2 separate regions of the Homo sapiens genome follow, and region 2 is linked to region 1. The links come from fine-mapping of genetic effects on gene expression. Tissue or cell type: testis. Region 1 holds a variant in brackets; the other region holds the start of a gene. All regions are shown on one strand. Distances are between the middles of the regions.

Evidence for each region. PIP is the estimated chance that this variant, and not a neighbour inherited with it, causes the effect.
Region 2: MARCHF8 starts here. The variant in region 1 is fine-mapped to the expression of MARCHF8 in testis (GTEx, PIP 0.94).

Annotation. Positions count from the first base shown.
Region 1 is chr10:45,657,599-45,665,705 of GRCh38, forward strand. ZFAND4 (zinc finger AN1-type containing 4) reads right to left here. Exons shown (of 10, transcript NM_174890.4): 2 at 5,944-6,244. The coding sequence starts at 6,127. Among named protein-coding and RNA genes, the nearest start is that of ZFAND4, 11 kb to the right of the region's middle. The variant CATT/C (reference allele first, on the strand shown) is at 3,309.
Region 2 is chr10:45,530,577-45,538,664 of GRCh38, forward strand. MARCHF8 (membrane associated ring-CH-type finger 8) reads right to left here and starts at 4,795. Exons shown (of 8, transcript NM_001282866.2): 1 at 4,635-4,795; 2 at 2,534-2,713. The coding sequence starts at 2,635.

The sequences.
Region 1 (8,107 bases):
GTGAAATAAAAACCTATGCTTCCATAAAAATGTGTATGTGAAAGTTTATATGGCTTTATTTGTAATCACCAAAAACTAAAAACCACCCAGATGTCCCTCAACTTGGGAATGAGTAACTATGGTACTTCCTTATAATGGAACATTACTCGGCCATAAACAGAATGAACTACTGATACATATAACAATATGATAAGTCTCAAACATATTATGCATAAGTGAAAAAAACCAGACTTAAGAGACTATAAAGTATATGATTTCATTTATATAAAATTCTAAAAAAGGCAAAATTACAGGAACAGAAACAGATCAGTGGGTATGATAGGGGCTTGGAATAGAGGAAGGGATTGACCACAAAAGGTACAGGAGAATTCTGATAGGTGATGGAACTGTTCTATATCTTGATTGTGGTGGTGACTGTATGATAGTAAATGTCTGCCAACACCAACAGAACGATATACTTGTTATGATATACTGTGTCCCTTCAAAATTCTTAGGTGGAAGTCTAAGCCTCTTATACCTCAGAATGTGACCTTAACTTGAAGACAGAATCTTGACATATGTATTCAAGTTAAAGTGAGCTAACTAGGGAGGGCCCTCATCCAATATGACTGGTATCCATATAAAAAGGAGAAATTTGGAGGCAGATACACACAGACACAAGGAGATTATCACATGAGAAGACCAGGGTGATGCCTTGAATAAGCCAATGAACTAGAAAGATTGAAAGCAAACCCCCAGGAGCTGGGTGAAAGGCATGTGACAGATTCTACAGCCCTCAGAAGGACCTGACACTGTCACCAACTAAATCTTGTATTTTCAGCCTCCAAAATCGTGTAACTTTCTGTTAAGTCACCCAGTTTGTGATACTTTGCTATGACAGCCCTAGCAAACTAATACAATATGTGAATTGTATGATATGTAAATTATATCTTCCTAAAAAATAGTTTGTTAGAATTTGGAGACAAATAAAAACATGCTCAGTATTATTAGTTAGCAAATTAAGAATGTGTATAAACTAAAAAAAATGATCGAAGCTGTCTAATCGTATATATTGCTGTGATTACAAAGCCCTTAAAGAACTATTATAATTTTTTAAACAAAAAAATATTTTTAGCAAAACAAATACTTGGAATTTAATAACACTGACATTCAACTTACCAAAAACTTGTAGGATATAGCTAACACAGTTATTGGAATTTTAAAATAAACGGTTATGTTTTTAAGAAGTTGAGACTCCTAGTTTCAGCTCTGATATATGGAGAACTTTTAATTCACCACTCCTTACAAGAAAAAAAGCTGAACAAACCGAAAACCAACAACTTTTCTTTGTGCCATCAGAGAAATTAGGTAGTAAGGTAAATCACCATAAGAAAATCTGTTGAGATAGGCAAACCCAGAGAGTCAGAGCCAAGATCCATTTACGTGAAGCTGAAGCCTCTAAAGTCATAAACTGGAAGGAACACTTGAATGGTAATTTTGATGAATTCATAGAGGCTGAGTGTGGACTAGTATGAGACTGGGAAATTATTGAGGGCCAGAAACCAGGCCCCTCTAGCCTCCCTACCTCACCTAAACTACTAGAAGTTGAAGGAGGGGAGAAGCTAAGATACACTTTGAAGGTCCCAGCCTAGAGGCACAGGCCCACTGCAAGATTTAATCATAAGATTACAGAATGTTCCCCCTCTTCCCAATACCTCACCACCACACTAACAAGGCTCCAGTATAACAACAGTGGATTACAACGGAAAGAATTGTAAGACGCAAACTCTAAGGAGGAGTCTTTAGGGAAACTCAAAGGCAACAGGGGAGACAAAACAAGAAAAAACTAGAGGAATTTGAAGGCTCTGGCACTTATAACTACAGCAAACATTAAACACAGCCCAATTTCTAGCAAGTTGAAGATAAAACCTCACTCTAATGTCCTATTTACCTCAATTCCTATTACCTGATATGTTATGTCTGGTTTTCAACTAAAAATTACAAAGCATGCTAAAAGACATGAAAAAATATGGTATGAAAAGACAAAACTAGCATCAGAAATAGACTCAGGTATGTCAGAGATCTTGAAATTATCAGACAGGGAAATTAAAACAGCTAAGATTAATATGCTAAGAAATCTAATGGAAAAGTATACAACATGAAATAACAGATTGATAATACAAGCAGAGATGGAAACTTTAAGAATAAAAAGTAGATGTTAAAAATAAAAGCTCCAACAGAAATAAAGAATGCCTTTGATTGGTCATCTGCAGACTGGATCTGGAAAAGAATTGGGAAGTTTGAAAAATGGCAACAGAGGCCGGGCGCGGTGGCTCACGCCTGGAATCCCAGCACTTTGGGAGGCCGAGACAGGCGGATCCCGAGGTCAGGAGATCGAGACCATCCTGACTAACACGGTGAAACCCCGTCTCTACTAAAATACAAAAAATTAGCCGGGTGTGTAGTCCCACCTACTCGGGAGGCTGAGGCAGGAGAATGGCGTGAACCCAGGAGGCAGAGCTTGCAGTGAGCCAAGATCACACCACTGCACTTCAGCATGGGCGACAGAGCGAGACGCATCTCAAAAAAAAAAAAAAAAAAGAAAAATGGCAACAGAAACTTCCTAGGCAAGGCACAGTGGTATGCACTTGTAGTCCCAGCTACTTGAAAGGCTGAGGCACAAGGATTATTTGAGTCCAGGAGGTCGAGTCCAGCCTGGCCAACATAGTGAAATCCCATCTCAAAATAAATAAATAAATAAAAGAAACAAAGAAAAGAAAATAAACTTGGCAAAACGGACTGTTAAGAGAAAAAAGAATGCACAAAAACAACATCTATTAACTGTGGGACAATTTCAAAAGTTGTGGCAATTTCAAAAGGTGCCACTAGAATATCAGAAGAAAAAATGAGACAGAAGAAATACTTAAATAATGGCCCAGATTTTCCAAAATTAATGAAACATACCAAACCACAGATCCAAGAAGCTCAGAGAATACCAAACACGATAACTACCAAAGAATCTACACCTTCAACATATTATATCAAACTGTAGAAAAGCAAAGACAAAGACAAAATTCTTAAATCAGCCAGGAAAGGGAAAAAAACACCTTACCTAAAGAGAAGCAAAGATAATTACTACAGGGGAGTTTTCATCAGAAATCATGCAAATAAGAAAAGACTAGAGTGAAATATTTAGTGTTGAAAGAAAAAAAATACCAACTTAGAATTCTATACCCTGAAATATTATCCTTCAGAAATGAAGGAGAAATACTTTTTCAGACAAACAAGAAACGTTAAAAGATGGCTTTTTTGCAAGAAACGTTAAAAGA[CATT/C]ATTCACAGAAAAAATGATGTAGGTCAGAAACTAAGATCTACATAAAGAAAGCAAGAGGTGGAATTTGTTGCCAGTGGACCCATATTGCAAGAAATGTTAAAAGACATTCTTCACAAAAAACAGGATGTAGGTCAGAAACTCAGATCTACATAAACAAAGGAAGAGGGCTGGGCCTGGTGGCTCAGGTCTGTAATCCCAGCTCTTTGGAAGGCTGAGGCAGGAGGATCACTCTGCTAAGCACTTCACCTTTAACTCATTTAATCCTGAGAACAACCCTTTGAGATAAATACTATTATTCTTCCTATCTTAGACTGAGACAACTAAGATACAGAGAGATTAAGTAATTTGGGCAGCCAGTAATCTGAAGCCAGGCAGCATGGCTTCGGCACTCCAGTCCCTTTTTCAAGGCCCATTGTAAATCCCTGAGCAGGCCCTGCTCCTCCCTTGCTGCAGCCTCCTTGTTCCTAATGCAGCACACTCCTTCAGTCCTTTCTCCACTAGCCCCTCCATCCTCCCCACTCTCCCCACCAGGCTCTAGTTCTCAACTCACCAAAAACTTCCCCTAAAGAAAAAGCAGTCTGGCAGAGTAATCATTTTCCCAGCAGGACGAACCCAAGCAGCCTCATCTCTGCCCTCCGTATTCCATATCCCTCTAACTTGGAGAATCTGACTCACACCATGTGACCCCAAATGTCTTCCAGGATATAAATATAAAGATCACCCAGAAAGGGCTTAAAATGTGTTTTTCAGCTGGGTTAGGTGGCTCACGCCTGTAATCCCAGCACTTTGGGAGGCCGAGGCAGGTGGATCACCTGAGGTCAGGAGTTCGAGACCAGCCTGGCCAACATGGTGAAACCCCATCTCTACTAAAAGTGCAAAATCAGTCAGGCATGGTGGCGCATGCCTGTAATCCCAGCTACTCGGGAGGCTGAGGCAGGAGAATCGCTTGAACCCAGGAGGCGGAGGTTGTGGTGAGCAGAGATTGCGCCATTCTCCAGCCTGCGCAACAGGTGCAAAACTCCGTCTCGAAGAAAAAAAAAAAAAAAAAGATACTATGTTCTCTCTCTGCCATGTGAAAATGCAGTGAACAAGCCTAGAGGACAGCCCCCACCAGAACCTGCCCATGCTGGTACCCTGATATTCAGCCTTCAGACAGTGAGAAATAAATTTCTGTTGTTTAAGCCACCGGTCTGTGGTATTTTGTTATGACAGCTCCAGCAGACTAAGATAGTAGGTATTTTACATATTACCTTATTTAATTTCCTAATATCTGTATTTGTTCATAAACATTTAAACTTAGATTCAATTGTCTAATAACCAAAAAGCCACTGCTTTTGTCCCCACAATGTCTCCTCCTACAGAGACAAGGACTCTATAACTTGGCTCTGGTTCTGACTCATGGAAACTAAATATTTCCCTTGGATGAGTTATTAATCTCCTCTAAACCCAAGTTGACTCTTCTGACATAAAAAGATTGAAACAGGATTCTCTCTAAAGTGCTTTTGCTGCATACAAATTATTTAAAATTCATGAAAGAGATAAAAAGTACAGAGATTATTTACAACGCAAGATTTCACCTTCATGCTCCAAAAAAGGTATCCTTTAAACTATGATATAAATTGCAAAGCAGAACGAAGTCAAAATAAACTATCATGACTCTAGATCTCACCAAATCATTTAGGGCAGACAAAAGCTTCAAGAGTCATTACTGAATGTGCTGATGTGGTCACTGGACTCGGCCAGCCACTCACTTCAGTAGGATCTCCTGGGTCTAGAGAAATAGCAAATATTCAGGAGCTCATATATATCCTTGGCCTCACAAAAATGAAAAATTCTAACCCTCCTCATCCTTCTATAATTCTGAACTTAAACCAGCTGGAGGGCAACCCTAGTCACTACCTTTATATTACAAGCAAGTTCCAGCTGGTTCCATCAACAAAGATCCATTTACTGTTATATGGAACAATTTAATTTTCTACTAAAAACTGGATTTTTAACAACTATAAATGGCAAACATTACTTATTGCAGAAATCTGCAAAATGCAAAGACTAATTTTAATAAAAATTAGTCTTTTTAGGCACTTTCTGCAAATATACAAACCACAAAAGAGACATTACACATTATTCAGCACCCCTGCTATACTAAGGGAACTTTGAATATACGTAAATGTAAGCCAAAGACTCTTTTCGGAAAACCTCCACATTAAAAAAAAAAAAAAGGAGGGTGGTTGCAAAGCAGTGTAAAAAGGGAAATAAGGTCCCTAGAAGGGAATATAATTACTATTTCCCATTAAAAGTAAAATATAAAGTAACATTAAAAGTAACTATAAAATAGTTAAGGCATAATTTGCAGGTCACCATAACCTGCTGAAAGCTATTCTAAAATATTATTTCACACCATAGCATGATGCCAGGGATTTGTTTCCAAAGAATCTGGTGAACACAGCAATGGGGATAAAATAGTTCATAAGCTGATAAATGTTGGAGAGAGGGAGTAGGAGGGGGTTCATTATCTTATTCTAACATCATATATGTTTGAAATTGTCTCCATTAAAATACTTTAAAAACTACTAGACATTATTGATGAACAAATTTAATTTTCATATCCTAAAAACAAAGAAAGATGAGTACCTTCCAATCTTCGAATTTTTGCTTTCACAGAAATAACAGTTTCAAAAGGTGAAACTCTCAGCTCAAAACATGTTCCAGTTAATGTTTCAATGAAGAGCTCCATGGTATCACAGAAATGAAGTCTGTAGTAAAATGGTCCCATGTTATCATCATTGAAGAATGGAGGCTCTTTTCTGTTATCCATTACTTTGACTTTTCTAGTTCTTCTAAAATATGTCGCAGGCAACTGTATTCCAGTTCTAGGCAAACCAGGTTTGAAGATTGGTAATATATATTGTTGTTCATGTTTTGAGTTTTGTACCTAAAAAAACAAGAATTTTTTTAACAAGCCTATCTGAAAGTTGTATTTGTCCATAAAGATTTTCCGTTAACTGTGGCCCATATCAATCTTCCAGACGGCCCCAGAATTCACTTTAGTGCTTTTAATTATGTCTAATCCTGAACTTTTCACATTTGTCTCTGAAATCACTCTCCCATCTAGACCATAAGATTATTAAGAATACGCATATTTTTGATATTATAATGTATCTTACTAGAGCTCAGCACAGTTATATATATAGTACATGCTCAACAAATACTTTTGTTGTTAAGTGATATATAAGCCAAACTCAACAAACACATCAGTATATTTCTGTAAGGCTTTGAAAAATTTATTCATATCCTTTTCTAAAACATACAAATTATGTCTTCTATACCATATAAAGCATAACTTTACAACGATTGTACATTTGACTTTTTTTTTTTTTTTGACAGAGTCTCGCTCTGTCGCCAGGCTGGAGTGCAGTGGCACAATCTCGGCTCACTGCAACCTCCGCCTCCCGGGTTCAAGCAATTCTCCTGCCTCAGCCTCCCAAGAAGCTGGGATTACAGGCACCCACCACCATGCCCAGCAGATTTTTGTATTTTTAGTAGAGACGGGGTTTCACCACGTTGGCCAGGATGGTCTCGATCTCTTCACCTTGTGATCCACCCGCCTCGGCCTCCCAAAGTGCTGGGATTACAGGCGTGAGCCACCATGCCTACTCCTGTTGTATATTTGAATCATACTGGATAAAAGGAATGCCAACCACCATAATAGGTTGCTTAAAAATAGTACTCACTAGGCTGGGGGCTGTGGCTCATGCCTGTAATCCCAGCACTTTGGGAGGCCGAGATGGCAGATCATGATGAGGTCAGGAGATCGAGACCATCCTGGCTAACATGGTGAGACCCAATCTCTACTAAAAATACAAGAAAAAAATGAGCTGGGCGTGGCGGTGTCTGCCTGTAGTCCCAGCTACTTGGGAGGCTGAGGCAGGAGAATGGCGTGAACCCGGGAGGCAGAGCTTGCGGTGAGCCGAGATTGCGCCACAACACCCCAGCCTGGGCAACAGAGCAAGACTCTGGTCTCAAAAACAAAAAAAAGTAGTACTCACTAAATCATCAACGGTTTCCAGAGGATATTATAGCATTCAGATGACATTAGAATTGGTAATAAGTATTAGACAATCTCTGCTCACATACATACAATGGCTAATAAGTATGAGTGGTAAGCCCAACAAATAGAAGTAGTAAACTAAATGACAAGTATAGAACTAGGAGCACAAAAATGATCAAATTGCTATTGCTATTAATCGTGAAAACTCTATACAGGGGGGCCTTGAACTTAAACTAGGACAAATGATACACATCTTTCTGGTGAGGTGGTTAAACCTTTTTAAAAATAGCTTTATTGAGGGCCAGGCACAGTGGCTCACACCTGTAATCCCAGCACGTTGGGAGGCCGAGGTGGGCGGATCACCTGAGGTCAGGAGTTCGAGACCAGCCTGGCCAAAATGGCGAAACCCCATCTCTACCAAAAAATACAAAAATTAGCCAGGAATGGTGGCGCACACCTGTAGTCCCAGCTACTCGGGAGGCTGAGGCAGGAGAACCGCTTGAGTCCAGGAGGCAGAGGTTGCAGTGAGCCAAGATTGCACCACTGCACTCCAACCTGGGTGACAGAGCAAGACTCCATCATTAAATAAGAAAAAAAAAGCTTTATTGAAATATAATTCACATGCCATAAAATTCACTCATTTAAAGCCTAAAATTCACTGGTTTTTATGATGTACACAGAGTTGTGCAACAATCACCACATTTGCTTTAGAAAATTTTCATTACCTCTAAAAGGAACCCCATACCC
Region 2 (8,088 bases), 130 kb before region 1:
TTTGAGACCAGCCTGGGCAATAGCAAGACCCCGACTCTACAAAATGAAAGAAAAACTTATCCAGGCATGGTCTATAGTGCCAGCTACTTGGGAGGTTGAGGCAGGAGGATCATTTGAGCCCAGGAGTTCGTGGCTGCGGTATGCTGTGATCACGCCACTGTATGCTAGCCTGGGCAACAGAGCAAGATCTGTACTCAAAAATAAGTAAAAAATAATAACAAAAATGAAAATAAAACTGACCGAAGTGAGGGAGAAAAGCAAACTCAGAATAGTCACACATGCCAACAATGACAGAAAAGAGGACTAAAACTGTCATTATAGCTGTTATTTCATATACTAAAAAAGTTGCATAGAGACATGGAAGATATAAAAAAGATCCAAAACAAATGTCTAGTGATAAAACATGTCTGAGATGAAAAACACACTAGACGGAATTACTGGCAGATTAGATATTGAAAAAGAAAATATTAATGAAATTATAAACAAAGTAATTGGAATATCCAAAATAAAATGCAGAAAGAAAAAATAACCTTAAAAAATTAAAAGTGCAGCAGTGGACAACTTTAAGCCAGTCAATGTGTATACTGGAGTCCCCAAAGAAAGAATGGGGGGACAGAAAAAGTATCTGAAGAATAGCCAAAAAGCTCCAAATTCTATGAAAATTGTAAACCCACTGATCCACAAGCACAACTTCAGAATACAAGAAACAAATAAAAAATATTTTTTAAATAAAGCTGAAAGAAGTCATTGTCAGCCAACTCACATTATAAGAAATGCTAAAGTCCTTTAGACAAAAGAAAAATGATAGATGGAAATACACCAGAAATGGTAATTATCTGAGTAAACAGATCTTTATTATTATTTAAAAGAAAAGTATTTAAAGAGAAAGTATTTTTTTAAATATATTCTAGGGTTTAAAATTTATTAAAAGACAATAATGAAAAGGCCAGAAGGAAAGAAATGAAAGTATACTATTGTAAGGTTCTCATACTGTATTTGAAATAAAAGATCATCTCCACAGTGACATGACCCATATCACTGAAACTGAATTCATATTCACTCATTCATTCATTCATCAACTGTATTGAGTACTGTATAAAAGTCATTAACCCTCTGTAGAAGTTATGGGCTTCAGCGAGGGTGTGTTAACAGATTAGACTAAGCAAACAGGTGGATTATTTGAGTCTAGGTAAAATGCAAGGGTTCACTCTTCTTATGGGACTCAGTAGGAATAATATCTCCCAAGCACAGGAGGATCAGAAATCATAGCAAAAGATTTTGGGTTGAACCTGTGCCAGGAAAAACTGCATAAATAAAAATGGGCTCCACTGGACAAAAATTTACCTTTCAAATCAAACCTGATACCACAATTGAGACCCTAGAAACACAACCACTATTTTCATCCTGTGCCATTGCTGCTGAAGCTCTCACGGGGCCCTGCAAGTTCCTGGTTCAACTGCTCTTCCACTACTGCCACCTCATCTGGGCTCCACGACACCCTGAACTGTCAGGCTGCCACTGGGTGTTCAAACCATCCCCACACTAAGGTAAGACAGAATGGTTTCTCTTTCTTCCCAATACCAATAAAAATCCCCATTCTACAAATAATTGATTAATGCTATTTATTTAGACCTTAAAAATCCCATCAAATAGATAAATTCAATAAGGCTTTATTAAATAACCACCTACAGTAAACCTGCAGTGAGGGTGTATATCAAAAAGAATCTCCCTTCCTGGCCTAACTGTTGGACATTTTCCTTTTTCTATTCCAAACAAGTTTGTATAGCTTCCCCATGTACACACTATTATGGACTAAATGTTTATGTTTCCCACAAAACTTTTATGCCAGAACTCTAATCCATAATGTAATGGTATTTGGAGGTGGGGCCTTGGGGAGACAATTAGGTCCTAGGGGTGGAACCCTCTCCATGGGATCAGTCCTTCTATATGAACAGCCACATGACAGCTTGCTTCCTTCCTCCCTCTATGCCATGTGAGGACACAGCAAGAAGGCAGCTGTTTATAAGTCAGGAAGTAAGACCTCACCAGAATCCAACCATGCTGGCACCCTGATCTCAGATTTCCAGCCTCCAGAACTGTGAGAAATAAATGCTTGTTATTTAAACCACCCAGGCTATGGCATTTTGTTACAGCAGCTAGGGCAGACTAAGACACATATTAAGAAATTCCAGCCATCTGGTGTCCAAATTTCACACTACGATGAATAGGAAACTAGCAGCATCATGTTCTGAGAATCCAAAGAACTTAGTCACAGTGATTAACCAAAAATAATCAGGTAGATTTAACCAATGAAGATAAGTCATTTATAACCATTTATAAACAGTAGTTTACACCAAAATCTGAAAACCTAGAAATCTACAAAAAGACAATTCCTTCTGAGTACAACTATTTGTGTGCTTGTCAGTATATTATCAGAGAAAACCTGACCTTTAGAGTTTAAGCACTGTTCTAGGTCATCTTTAATAAAAATTTAATAAAAATAATGAAACTAAAAAAGATACTCTCCCAGTACCTGTTCTTCCCTCTCCTTTTCTTTGGTCTTACTTCTGTAGACTCTAGCAGAGATGGCATCCTGGGATGGAATGGCAGAGATCTGATGCAGTGGCATGCTCATCCCAACCTCTTATCTGGTCGTCTTCTTCACAGAAGAGAGTCTCCACTGGTAGAGTCATTTTGGGCCATGGATTTCAAGCTGAGAGAAAATGAAGAGAGAATAAACATAACTCAGCTAAAACACTTTAAATTTCCAAGAGTGAGCTTAACATTTTATACTTATATTCATATGTATATTTAAATAAGTTACGGCAACATAAATGTTTGGTCTTCAAAAACAATAGAAGATGAATGTCTAAGGGGAAAATTCTAACATTTCTCATAATAAGATGGGAGCACCTGAAAGAGGCAGGTGGATCACGTACATGTATAATCAGAGATATAATCTTCCATTGGCTACTTAGGATTAAAACAAAGCAGTGCCACCATTTATTTTAAGAATATTTTTGAAGTTAAACTTTTTTTTTTATCATGACCAAGCATTTGTCCTGAAATAAGCAGTGATCTTTCCTTAAAACCACTGTCTGTGAGTCCACATAATGGTGAGATCAGAGGTTAGGAAGTCCAAATTAAACTCAAGGTATCTATGATCCATACTTAACCTTCCAAAAGTAGAGACTCTACACGAGCTGTTGGCAAACTATTCCTATAAAGGGCAAGATACATATTTTAGGCACTGTGGTCCAAGTGTGTTCCAGCTAATTAACTCTGCCACTGTAGCATGAAAGCACCCATAGAGAGCATGTAAATGGGCCGGGTGCGGTGGCTCATGCCTGTAATCCCAGCACTTTGGGAGGCCAAGGCGGGCAAATCACGAGGTCAGGAGATCGAGACCACCCTGGCTAACACGGTGAAACCCTGTCTCTACTAAAAATACAAAAAATTAGCCAGGCATGGTGGCGGGCGCCTGTAGTCGCAGCTACTCAGGAGGCTGAGGCAGGAGAATGGCACAAACCCAGGAGGCGGAGCTCGCAGTGAGCCAAGATCGCACCACTGCACTCCAGCCTGGGTAACACAGCGAGACTCCAACCCCCCAACCTCCCCCCCACCAAAAAAAAAAGAGTATGTACATGAATGAGCATAGTTATGTTCCAATAAAACTTTATTTACAAAAATAGGCAGCAGGCTAGATTTGGCCCACCAGACTATAGTTTGCCAAACACTGCCGTAAAGGGTTTCCTAGGGAATATGAAGGGTCACCATGACATGCCTAAGAACCATGAGAAAGGCTGCCTTTAGGTAAAATAACAGTGTATGCATAAACTGTCTTCAGTGATTCCAGGTACTCCTGCCCTGTTTCTGGTTTTCTCTTACGCATCCCCCAAAATGTCTAATAATTGAATTGTGTGTTGTTCTTTCTCCCCACTTACCCACTGAGATCTATCCCACTCTGTATACAAAACCAATTAAACGTAAATTATCCAGAAGGTTTAATGTAGTAAAATGTTTCATGTTGTTCAAATTTTAACAGAAAATGGAAGCCTTCAACCAAAAGAATGAATCTCGAATTTGGAGATTTTCATTTATTAACCATGTGCTGGGGTAGGGGGTGGGGACAGGTGAGGCAGTAGGAAAAGGTAGGGTAAACAACAGGGCCTGACAACCCCAAGGTCACATTTGATAAGCAGTCACTTACTCTACCTCTCCCCAAACTCTACTCTGGATCAAAGGCAGGTGTTTGTAAGGCTGGTGCCAATTCTTAGTAGTGTCACTAAGCAAGCAGAGGAGCACCAGGAATCACGAAATGGCTTCCTTCACACAACTCTAGAATCAATGAACAACAAAAAGGAACAAAAACTGGGAGGGATCAACACATAGAAGAAAATTAGCTAAAATAATAATCTGTTTATAAAGTCTAGTTTTACAGTAAGTGAGTGACCATTGATAATAACAACAAAAAAAGGAAAATAGAATAGGGGATGTTAGTGTCTAGGTATCACACACCACCTACTCTATTTCAAGCCTTTGATGAGGCTGGCATAAGATGGAGCACTACTGTGCCCAAGAAACAGTCTGAATGTTTGTATTCAAGCACGTCACACAAAACAAGAGGCACTTACTGCGGAGCTGCCTTATACTCCCTGGGAGATCACAATAGTCAGTGGTAAGCAGTTTTTTCATCACTAATGCACTAACGTCCTCTATTACAGATGACAAACTCCATGGGGCCTCTTGGAATACTTGGTCAAACTGACGATATCCACAGCCCTATACCTACCATGCCAAAAGCTACCTGTGGTGCTTCTGATATAATCATCATTATTACATCATTGGTACATGCCCATGACAAGCCTGAGAAGGGCTATTTATGGCACAGAAACACAGATGCAAGAGGGTCTCAAATTTTTTACAGTTTTGAAGGACATCCCTCCTCACTGTCATTGAAGTTAGTCTTTTGATATGTACCACCACAACAAAGCAACAGACCTATAAGTTTGCCTGAAACAATCTCCCTCCTATGCCACACATATTTAGGATAAAAATGAGTTTACAAACAAACGATAAAACAGGCCATGCCATTTTTTATGTGAAGATTTACATGAAAAATACAAATCATATATTACATTATTTTCTTTGCATAATTTCCAAACATCTTTTATATCAACTAAATTAATCTTTACACAGAATAACAGTTAAACCTCAGCACTATGCCTCACAATCCAGGCATGAGGGCTTCAATTTGACTAATGCTAACTTGCAAAATACAGCCCACCTAACATGAACATTCACATCTAGAAGAGATACTGCCAAAGCTGGTTGTTGAAGAAATTGGAAATGGATGTCCATGTTCATGGATCAGAAGATTTAATATTGTTAAAATGGCAATTCTTCCCAAGTTGACATAGAGAGTCAAAGCAATCTCTATCAAAAACTGAGCTGACTTCTTTACAGAAATTTGACAAGCTGATCTGAAAATTTATATAAAATTCAAGGGACTCAGATCTGCCAAAACAACCTTGAAAAAGAACAAAGTTGGAGAGCTCACATTTCCAGATTGCAAAACTTACAACAAAGGAACAGTAATCAAGACTGTGTCATACTGGAATATGAATAGATATATCAATGGAATAGAATTTAGGGCCCAGAAATAAACCCACGTATCTATAGTCAGCTGATTTTCAAGAAGGGTGCCAAGATCACTTCTTGGGGAAAGAGTACTGTTTTCAACAAATGGTGCTGGGACAACTAGATAGCCACATGCAAAAGAAATTTGGATCTCTTCCTCACACAAAAGGAAAAACAGACAAACTACACATCATCAGAATAAAAACTTTTGTGCTTCAAAAGACACCACTGAGAAAGGGAAAACACAGCCAGTCATAATGGTTCACACCTATAATCCCAGAACTTTGGGAGGCCAAGGCAAGAGAATCTCTTGAGGCCAGAACTCAAGAAAGGCCTGGGCAATATAGCAATACTCTACCTCTATTTATAAATGTTAAAAAAAAAAAAGTCTAAAGACAACTGACAGAAGAAAAAGTTTGCAAATCATATATGTAATAAGGGACTTGTATCTAGAATATATAAACAACTCTCTTACAACTCAGTAACATAAGGGCAAGGCCAGGTGCAAGTAGCTCACGCCTATCATCTCAGCATTTTCGGAGGCTGAGGTGGGAGGACTGCTTCAGGCCAGGAGTTCAAAACCAGTGTGTGAAACATAGCGAGGCCCCATCTCTACCAAAATAATAATAATAATAATAATAATAATAATAATAATAATAATAATAAAGACAAATAACCCAATGAAAAATGGGTTAATCAACATCATTAGCCATCATGGAAATACAAATCAAAACTATTAGATATTACTTTAATTATGTTCATAATAAAAGACAAACAAGTGTTAGCAAGGATGTTGTGACACTGAAACCCTCATATACTGCTAGTGAGGATCTATGCAGTCGTTTTGAAAAATAGTCTGGCTCTTTCTCAAAAGGTTAAACATGTTATCATATGACCCAACAACTTCAATCCTAGGGTATATACACCAAAGAGAAATGCAAACATCTCCTCATATGAAAACTTGTCCATGAATGTTTCTATCACATTACTCATGATAGCCAAAAGGTGGAAATAACCTAAACGTCCATCAAATGATAAACGGATAAATCAAATAAGCTATATCCATTCAACGGAATCATATTCAGCAATAAAAAGAAATAAAGTACTGACACATGCCACAATATGGACGAACCTTTAAAAAGTTATGCTAAGTAGGCCAGGTGTGGTGGTTCGCGCCTATAACACCAGCACTTTGGGGGGCCAAGGTGGGTGAATCGCTTGAGCCCAGGAGTTCCAGACCAGCCTGGGCAACATGGCAAAACCACATCCCTACAAAAAACTCAAAACTTAGCCGGGTGTGGTGGCTCATGCCTGTGGTCCCAGCTACTCAGGAGGCTGAGTTGGGAGGATCGCTTGAGCCCAGAAGGTTGAGGCTACAGTGAGCCGGTATGGCGCCACTGCACTCCAGCCTAGGTGATACAGTGAGACCTTGTCTCAAAAAAAAAAAAAAAGAAAAGAAAAAAATTATACTAAGAAGCCAGTCACAAAGAACCATATATTACATGATGACAGTTGTATGGAATGCCCAGAGGAGATAAATCTATAGAGACAGAAAGTAGAGCAGTGCATGCCAAGAGCTGGGGTAGGAATGGGTAAACGGGAGGAAGCAGTGGATTCAATGATTTATTTTTAGGATAATGAAAATATTCTAAAATTGACTATGGTGCTGGTTGCAGAACTTTCGAGTATATTAAAGCCATAGAAATAGTAAAAGGACTAAGATAGATAGAGAAAATTTTAATTTTTCCTTTGTGTTATCCCTAATCTAACTAATCTAGATGACATGGAGATGGCTACTGTTGCCCTATCTCACTCACCCTTCCAGTTTTAAGAAGGCGATAGAAAGAGTACAAAGGTTGGGTTACCCACAAAGGGAAGCCCATCAGACTAACAGCTGATCTCTCGGCAGAAACTCTACAAGCCAGAAAAGAGTGGGGGCCAATATTCAACATTCTTAAAGAAAAGAATTTTCAACCCAGAATTTCATATCCAGCCAAACTAAGCTTTGTAAGTGAAGGAGAAATAAAATCCTTTACAGACAAGCAAATGCTGAGAGATTTTGTCACCACCAGGCCTGCCCTAAAAGAGCTCCTGAAGGAAGCACTAAACATGGAAAGGAACAACTGGCACCAGCCACTCAAAAACATGCCAAATTGTAAAGACCATCAAGGCTAGGAAGAAACTACATCAACTAACGTGCAAAATAACCAGCTAACATCATAATGACAGGATCAAATTCACACATAACAATATTAACCTTAAAAGTAAATGGACTAAATGCTCCAATTAAAAGACACAGACTGGCAAATTGGATAAAGAGTCAAGACCCATTACTGTGCTGTATTCAGGAAACCCATCTCACGTGTAGAGACACACATAGGCTCAAAATAAAGGGATGGAGGAAGATCTACCAAGCAAACGGAAAACAAAAAAAGGCAGAGGTTGCAA